2 separate regions of the Homo sapiens genome follow, and region 2 is linked to region 1. The links come from fine-mapping of genetic effects on gene expression. Tissue or cell type: tibial artery. Region 1 holds a variant in brackets; the other region holds the start of a gene. All regions are shown on one strand. Distances are from middle to middle.

Region 1 (2,903 bases):
AGCTCACTGCAGCCTTGACCTCCTGGGCTCAAGTGATCCTCCCACCTCAGCCTCCCAAGTAGCTGGGACTGCAGGTGCACACCACCACGCCTGGCTAATTAAAAATAAAAATTTTTTTGAGATGGAGTCTTGCTGTGTCACCCAGGCTGGAGGGCAGCGGTACGATCTCAGCTCACTGCTACCTCCACCTCCCCAGTTCAAGTGATTCTCCTGGCTCAGCCTCCTGAGTAGCTGGGATTACAGGTGCCTGCCACCACACCCGGCTAATTTTTTTTTTTTTTTAAGGCAGAGTTTCACTCTTGTTGGCCAGGCTGGAGTGCAATCGCATGATATTGGCTCACTGCAGCCTCCAGTTCCCAGGTTCAAGCGATTCTCTTGCCTCAGCCTCCTGAGTAGCTGGGATTATAGACTCCCGCCACCACGCCCAGCTAATTTTTTGTATTTACAGGATCACACCTGTAATCCCAGTATTTTGGGAGGCCGAGGCAGGCGGATCACCTGAGGCCAGGAGTTGGAGACCAGCCTGGCCAACGTGGCGAAACCCCGTCTCTATTAAAAATACAAAAATTAGCTGGGTATAGCTGGGTGTGGTGACTCATGCCTGTAATCCCAGCACTTTGGGAGGCCAAGGCGAGCGGATCACCTGAGGCCAGGAGTTGGAGACCAGCCTGGCCAACATGGTGAAACCCTATCTCTACCAAAAAAAAAAAAAAAAATTAGCTGGGTGTGATGGTACATGCCTGGGGTCCCAGCTACTCAGGAGGCTGAGGCAGGAGGATTGCTTGAGCCTGGGAGGTTGAGCTGCAGTGACCCATGATTATGCTCCAGCCTGGGTGACAGAGTGAGACCCTGTCTCAAGACAAAATTATCAGGGTCTCAGGTCTGCACTTAAAGGTCCATGGGGCGACCTGCACAACAAACTGAACTAGAAGCGATAGGCATAGGGGGATAAACACAGTCTTGAAGATGTCATTTGGCTTGGTGAGATTTGACTCAAGACTGGAAGATAATGAGTCTGAGGAGTTGCTGGCTGGGAGAGGGCTAAGCTGCCTGTAAAGGGGAGGAAGACTAGAAAATATTTGTCAACACCAGAGACTCCTAGGCTGGGTGGGGGATATGGACACTGTTTTGATGTAAATAAAAAATTTGGCACCCAAATGAGGTGAATGGTGGTGACTGGCAACTGCACCTAGTTGGATGTCAGTGCTGAGTTGCATTTACCTAAAAGAGCAGTTAGCAAGTTCT[G/T]GATGTGTCCTGCTGAATGTTTTATCTTGTGAAGGGAAGAAGAAGAACCTATAGAGGGCTGGGCGAGGTGGCTCACGCCTGTAATCCCAACACTTTGGGAGTCTGAGGCAGGAGATTGCTTGAGCCTAGGAGTTCAAGATGAGCCAAGGCAACATAGTGAGACCCCATCTTTATTACATTAAAAAAAAAAAAGAGCCTGTGGAAGGTCTGTATCTGGGCAAGATGATAGGGTGACAGACCCTGCTCATTATAGGAGAGTTTGGTTGATGTACCTAAAATTTTCTGGAAGGATTGGAAAATAGAGAAAAGCAAAACAATTGGGGAAAGAATGGGTAGTTATAGTTATTCTGCTGGTTAGAGCAAATTACTGTTAACGTTTTCTTTGTTGATCTGTGGTGTTTACAGATTAACTATGTAACTCATAAGAGTTAGATCCTGAATAGTTTGTGTGTAAGTTGCACATGTCAGCATCTGGGAGGGATGCCAGGGAGAGTAGACTGTCCTTCCCTACCCAGGCTGTATCTCTTTACTTGTGTTAAAGAGGAATTAATTAATTATTAAAGTAATAAATATGCAAGAGATGCCTGGGGCAACTCCCAGGAGAGACTAACTCTGGAATCCCTGGAAATAATGGATCAGTTAGGAAGCCAACCTTATGCAGGTAGAAGTGAGTAATTATACTGGGTAATAACTCATCTGTACTTCCTTCACTCCTGTTGTTTTTCAGCTGGGTTCCTGGTGAGGACAAATGCTGCAAATAGCTCCTGTCCAACCACAAGTTCCTGCATTCTAATGAGTTCTTCTTCCTTCTTAACATTTTTGAAATCTGGATGTGTTTCATGAAACATTATAAATGTAATGTTATTGTTCCTTGGAAAATTGCAAGGTACAATACAATTGCAAGGAACAGTTGCACAGTGGCTTGTCTTCCATGCACCTGTCGTAGGTTGGATGTGTGTGCTTGTGTTAAAGAAAGAAATTAGGAAATTAAATAGTTTTAAGTGTCTTTTCTACTCGTGAAATTTTCCCATTCATCAGCTATACTTTGAAAAATGTTTAACAGCTGTGTAATATTCTATCCTAAAGCTCTAATAGTTTATTTCACTACTCTGAGGGATAATTTTTTAGAGGCAGGAATGAAATGTTGGAATTGGAATCTCTTGAAACCTCTGCTGCCTGTGTGTAGGGGTCGGGGAGGGCAGATGAACAGCTTAGCAGATGCAAATAGGAGGGGCTCCAGCCACCTATTGATAGTGGAACTGGCCAGGCTTTAGATAAAGCCTCTGTCAAGCAGTCTATAATTTTGATGTCTGTGGTCATTTTCCTTTCTTTGAAAACACAGATTAAACAAAAGTTACATCAGAATTGGTATTGGCTTAGTGTTGCTATTTTGAGAAGAGGCAGTACAGGTGTTAGACTTGTAAATATTCTCAAGTGAATATCACCTGACTCAAATTACAAAAAGTATCTCATTGTTTGATGCTGAAAACATAAACACAAATTATGTTCCACAGTTGTAGAAACTACTCATGGAAACATTAATATGAGGTAATTTGCTTATAATGAATTAATTTTTTTTTTTTTTTTTTGGAGACAGTCTTGCTCTGTCCAGGCTGGAGTGCAGTGGCATGATCTCAGCTCACTGCAGCCTTTGCCTC
Region 2 (2,903 bases), 25 kb before region 1:
TGTCTCCCTGGCTGGAGTGCAGTGGCAGTAATCTTGGCTCACTGGACCCTCGACTTCCCAGGCTCAAGGGATCCTCCCACCTCAGCCTCCTGAGTAGCTGGGACTACAGGCGCCCACCACCACACCAGGCTAATTTTTGTGTTTCACTAGAGACAGGATTTCACCATGTTGCCCACGCTGGTCTCGAACTCTTTGCCTCAAGAGATCCACCCACCTCGGCCTCCCAAAGTGCTGGGATTACAGACGTGTGCCACTGGACCCAGCCTCCTTTGCCAGTCTTAATACTAAGTTATTTTATTATTTTGGGAGAATTGCTACATCGAATATCAGCCCTTTGTCATATGTTTCGAGTATTTTTCTGAATTTGTACCTTGTCTTTGATTTTTTTTCTTTTTTGAGACAGGGTCTTGCTCTGTCCTCCAGGCTGGAGTGCAGTGGCGGGATCACAGCTCACTGCAGCCTCGACCTCCCGGCCTCAAGTGATCCTCCCACCTCAGCCTGAGTAGCTGGCATCACGCCCAGCTAATTTTATTTTTTGTAGAGATGGGGGTCGCACCATGCTGGCCAGGCTGGTCTCTAACTCCCGAGCTCAAGCCATCCTCCCGCCTCGGTCTTCCAAAGTGCTGAGATTGCAGGCGTGAGACACCGTGCCCAGCCGTCTTTAATATTTTTCACCAGGCGGATAGTTCACATTTTTGTGTAGTCTTTTTTTTTTTTTTTTTGGTGCCTTCTAATTCTAATTCTTCCCATTTCTGGGTGTGTACTTAGTCTCTCTGAGCCACAGTTTTCTGCTCTATAAAGTGGGGTGATAATGCTCAGTACACGGTTTGCTTTGGCTCGATGAGAAATCCAGGTCTGAAAGCTTCAGGTACAGCGGCCGGCGCTGAGGAAAACAGCGTTAAGTGAGGCGCGTCAGCGGACACCACCTGCCTGCACATCTGGCTGGCCTCAACTTCCCGCTGTTCGAGCCCACGTGAGTGGCTCCGCCCCATCTGGCTTCTGACCAATGGACGAGCTTCCTAAGGCGTACCGTCCCGACTCCAAGGCGCCTGGCTTTGAGGCGGGCTGCGTCTTGCTCGGAGTCCCGCCCCTTGCCGGGTCGAGCAATGGGCGCCTTCCGTTTGGCGCAGGCCCCGCCCCTGTCGCTCTCCGGCCTGCGGGCCGCAGGGCTCGTTCCGGAGGGCGGGCGCCACGGAGGCCGGAGTGGTCGCAGTTCGGGCGGAGGCCGGGCCAGGCGGGGCTGTAGGGCTGGGGCAGGCGGCGGGCTGCCCGGCGGGACAGCTGCGGCAGCCGGCGGGGGGCGTCCTGAGTTGGCGGTCGAGGGCGCTGCCAGCTCCCGAGGGGCCGCTCGGGCCCCTTCCGGCCCGGGTCTGGTTGGGCCGCAGGAGCAGGGCGGGCTGCGGCGCCCGGGTCTGGCCCTGGCCTACGGGCTAAGCGCCCGGCCCCGGGGCCGCGGATCCGGCAGCCATGTGTGGATCTTGAAGCGCCATGTGGTCTTCTGAAGCGCTTGACAGTTCTAAAGGGCTTTATATTGCAAACTGATCAAAGCGCTTCGTAGCCCCGGAAGCGCTTAGGCATCTCCGAAGTAGCGCTGGGCAAAGTGAAGGCTTCCTGATCTCAGAAGCACGTTGTGGGCTTGGAAACCGACGGCAGCCTTTAGTCAATTTTGGATCGCTTTGACTTCTCCAACACGGTTTGGCATCTCTGAAACCTTGAGAACTGTGATGGGCAGTGGAAAGAAGAGGGAAAGGTCAGTGAGGCTAGCCCCTGGCTCTGCCCTTATGTCTTGCCGTCCTCCTGGGCCCGGGGTGGCGGGAATCTGAGGTGGGGTCGCCAGGAAGGGTGGTGTTGGAATCCAGGCCCCCTGTACCTTGCAGGTGCCCATGGCGTCCGAGCGGGGCAAGGTCAAGCACAACTGGAGCAGCACGTCGGAAGGGTGTCCCCGCAAGCGCAGCTGCCTCCGGGAGCCCTGTGATGTGGCCCCCTCCAGCCGGCCAGCTCAGAGGTCTGCGTCGCGTTCTGGAGGGCCCAGCAGCCCCAAGCGCCTGAAAGCCCAGAAGGAGGACGATGTGGCTTGCTCGCGGAGGTTATCCTGGGGCTCATCCCGCCGCAGAAATAACTCCTCCTCCTCCTTCTCCCCACATTTCTTGGGCCCTGGTGTGGGCGGGGCCGCCTCCAAAGGCTGCCTGATTCGGAACACTCGGGGGTTCCTGTCTTCAGGGGGATCCCCTCTGCGTCCTGCCAACGCCTCTTTGGAAGAAATGGCTTCTCTAGAGGAGGAAGCCTGCAGCCTTAAGGTAGGTGGCTGCCACGCTTTGCAATCGGTGAAGCCCCTTCCACATGGCTTGAGAGGTTGGGGATGGGAATTTTGGTGGAAGGAGACTACAAAACATTACATCCTTGAAGGTCTGGAAGGTCTTTCTAGAAGTCCACTCCCCCCAAACTCGAAGACCTAGCAGTCTTCCAGGCGCGTGGCCTGAAGTTAAGTAGAGAGGTAATTTTCAAACTCGGCAGCACTTTGGAACTACTTGGAAAGCTTTAAAATACTTGGGCCTGCCTCCTACTCCAGAGAAACTGATTTATTGGGCTGAGGTGTGGTCTGGGCTTCCAGATTTTTCAGTGCTCCCCAGGTTATTGTAAACGTGCAGCCCCGTTGGAGAATCACTGCAGTAGAAGGTGGATTATGTGCTCAAGAGAAGAATGTATTTATTTTAGTTGTCAGTTTAAAGAATTGTGTGCCCTTGTACTTTGAACCACTCTGAATCACAGAACCAAGAATTGCGGTTCTTGGTGTAGCTTTTCTCCAAAGTCATAGTTTCCAGCATGTTGGGGTTTTGCTTGGTGGTGCTAGTTTTTTTTTTTTTTCTTTTTTTTTTGGAGGTTAAATTGTTAATTCCCTAATG

The links.
Region 2: it holds the start of TATDN2, and the variant in region 1 is fine-mapped to the expression of TATDN2 in tibial artery (GTEx, PIP above 0.99). The same link has a PIP of 0.9 or more in aorta and prostate.

The regions. Positions count from the first base shown.
Region 1 is chr3:10,272,174-10,275,076 of GRCh38, forward strand. The region is part of intron 4 of TATDN2 (TatD DNase domain containing 2); the gene reads left to right. Among named protein-coding and RNA genes, the nearest start is that of MIR12127, 6.7 kb to the right of the region's middle. The variant G/T (reference allele first, on the strand shown) is at 1,246.
Region 2 is chr3:10,247,318-10,250,220 of GRCh38, forward strand. It overlaps TATDN2 (TatD DNase domain containing 2), which reads left to right and starts at 1,142. Exons shown (of 8, transcript NM_014760.4): 1 at 1,142-1,750; 2 at 1,878-2,297. The coding sequence starts at 1,884. RefSeq lists a silencer at 1,028-1,457 and an enhancer at 1,710-2,578.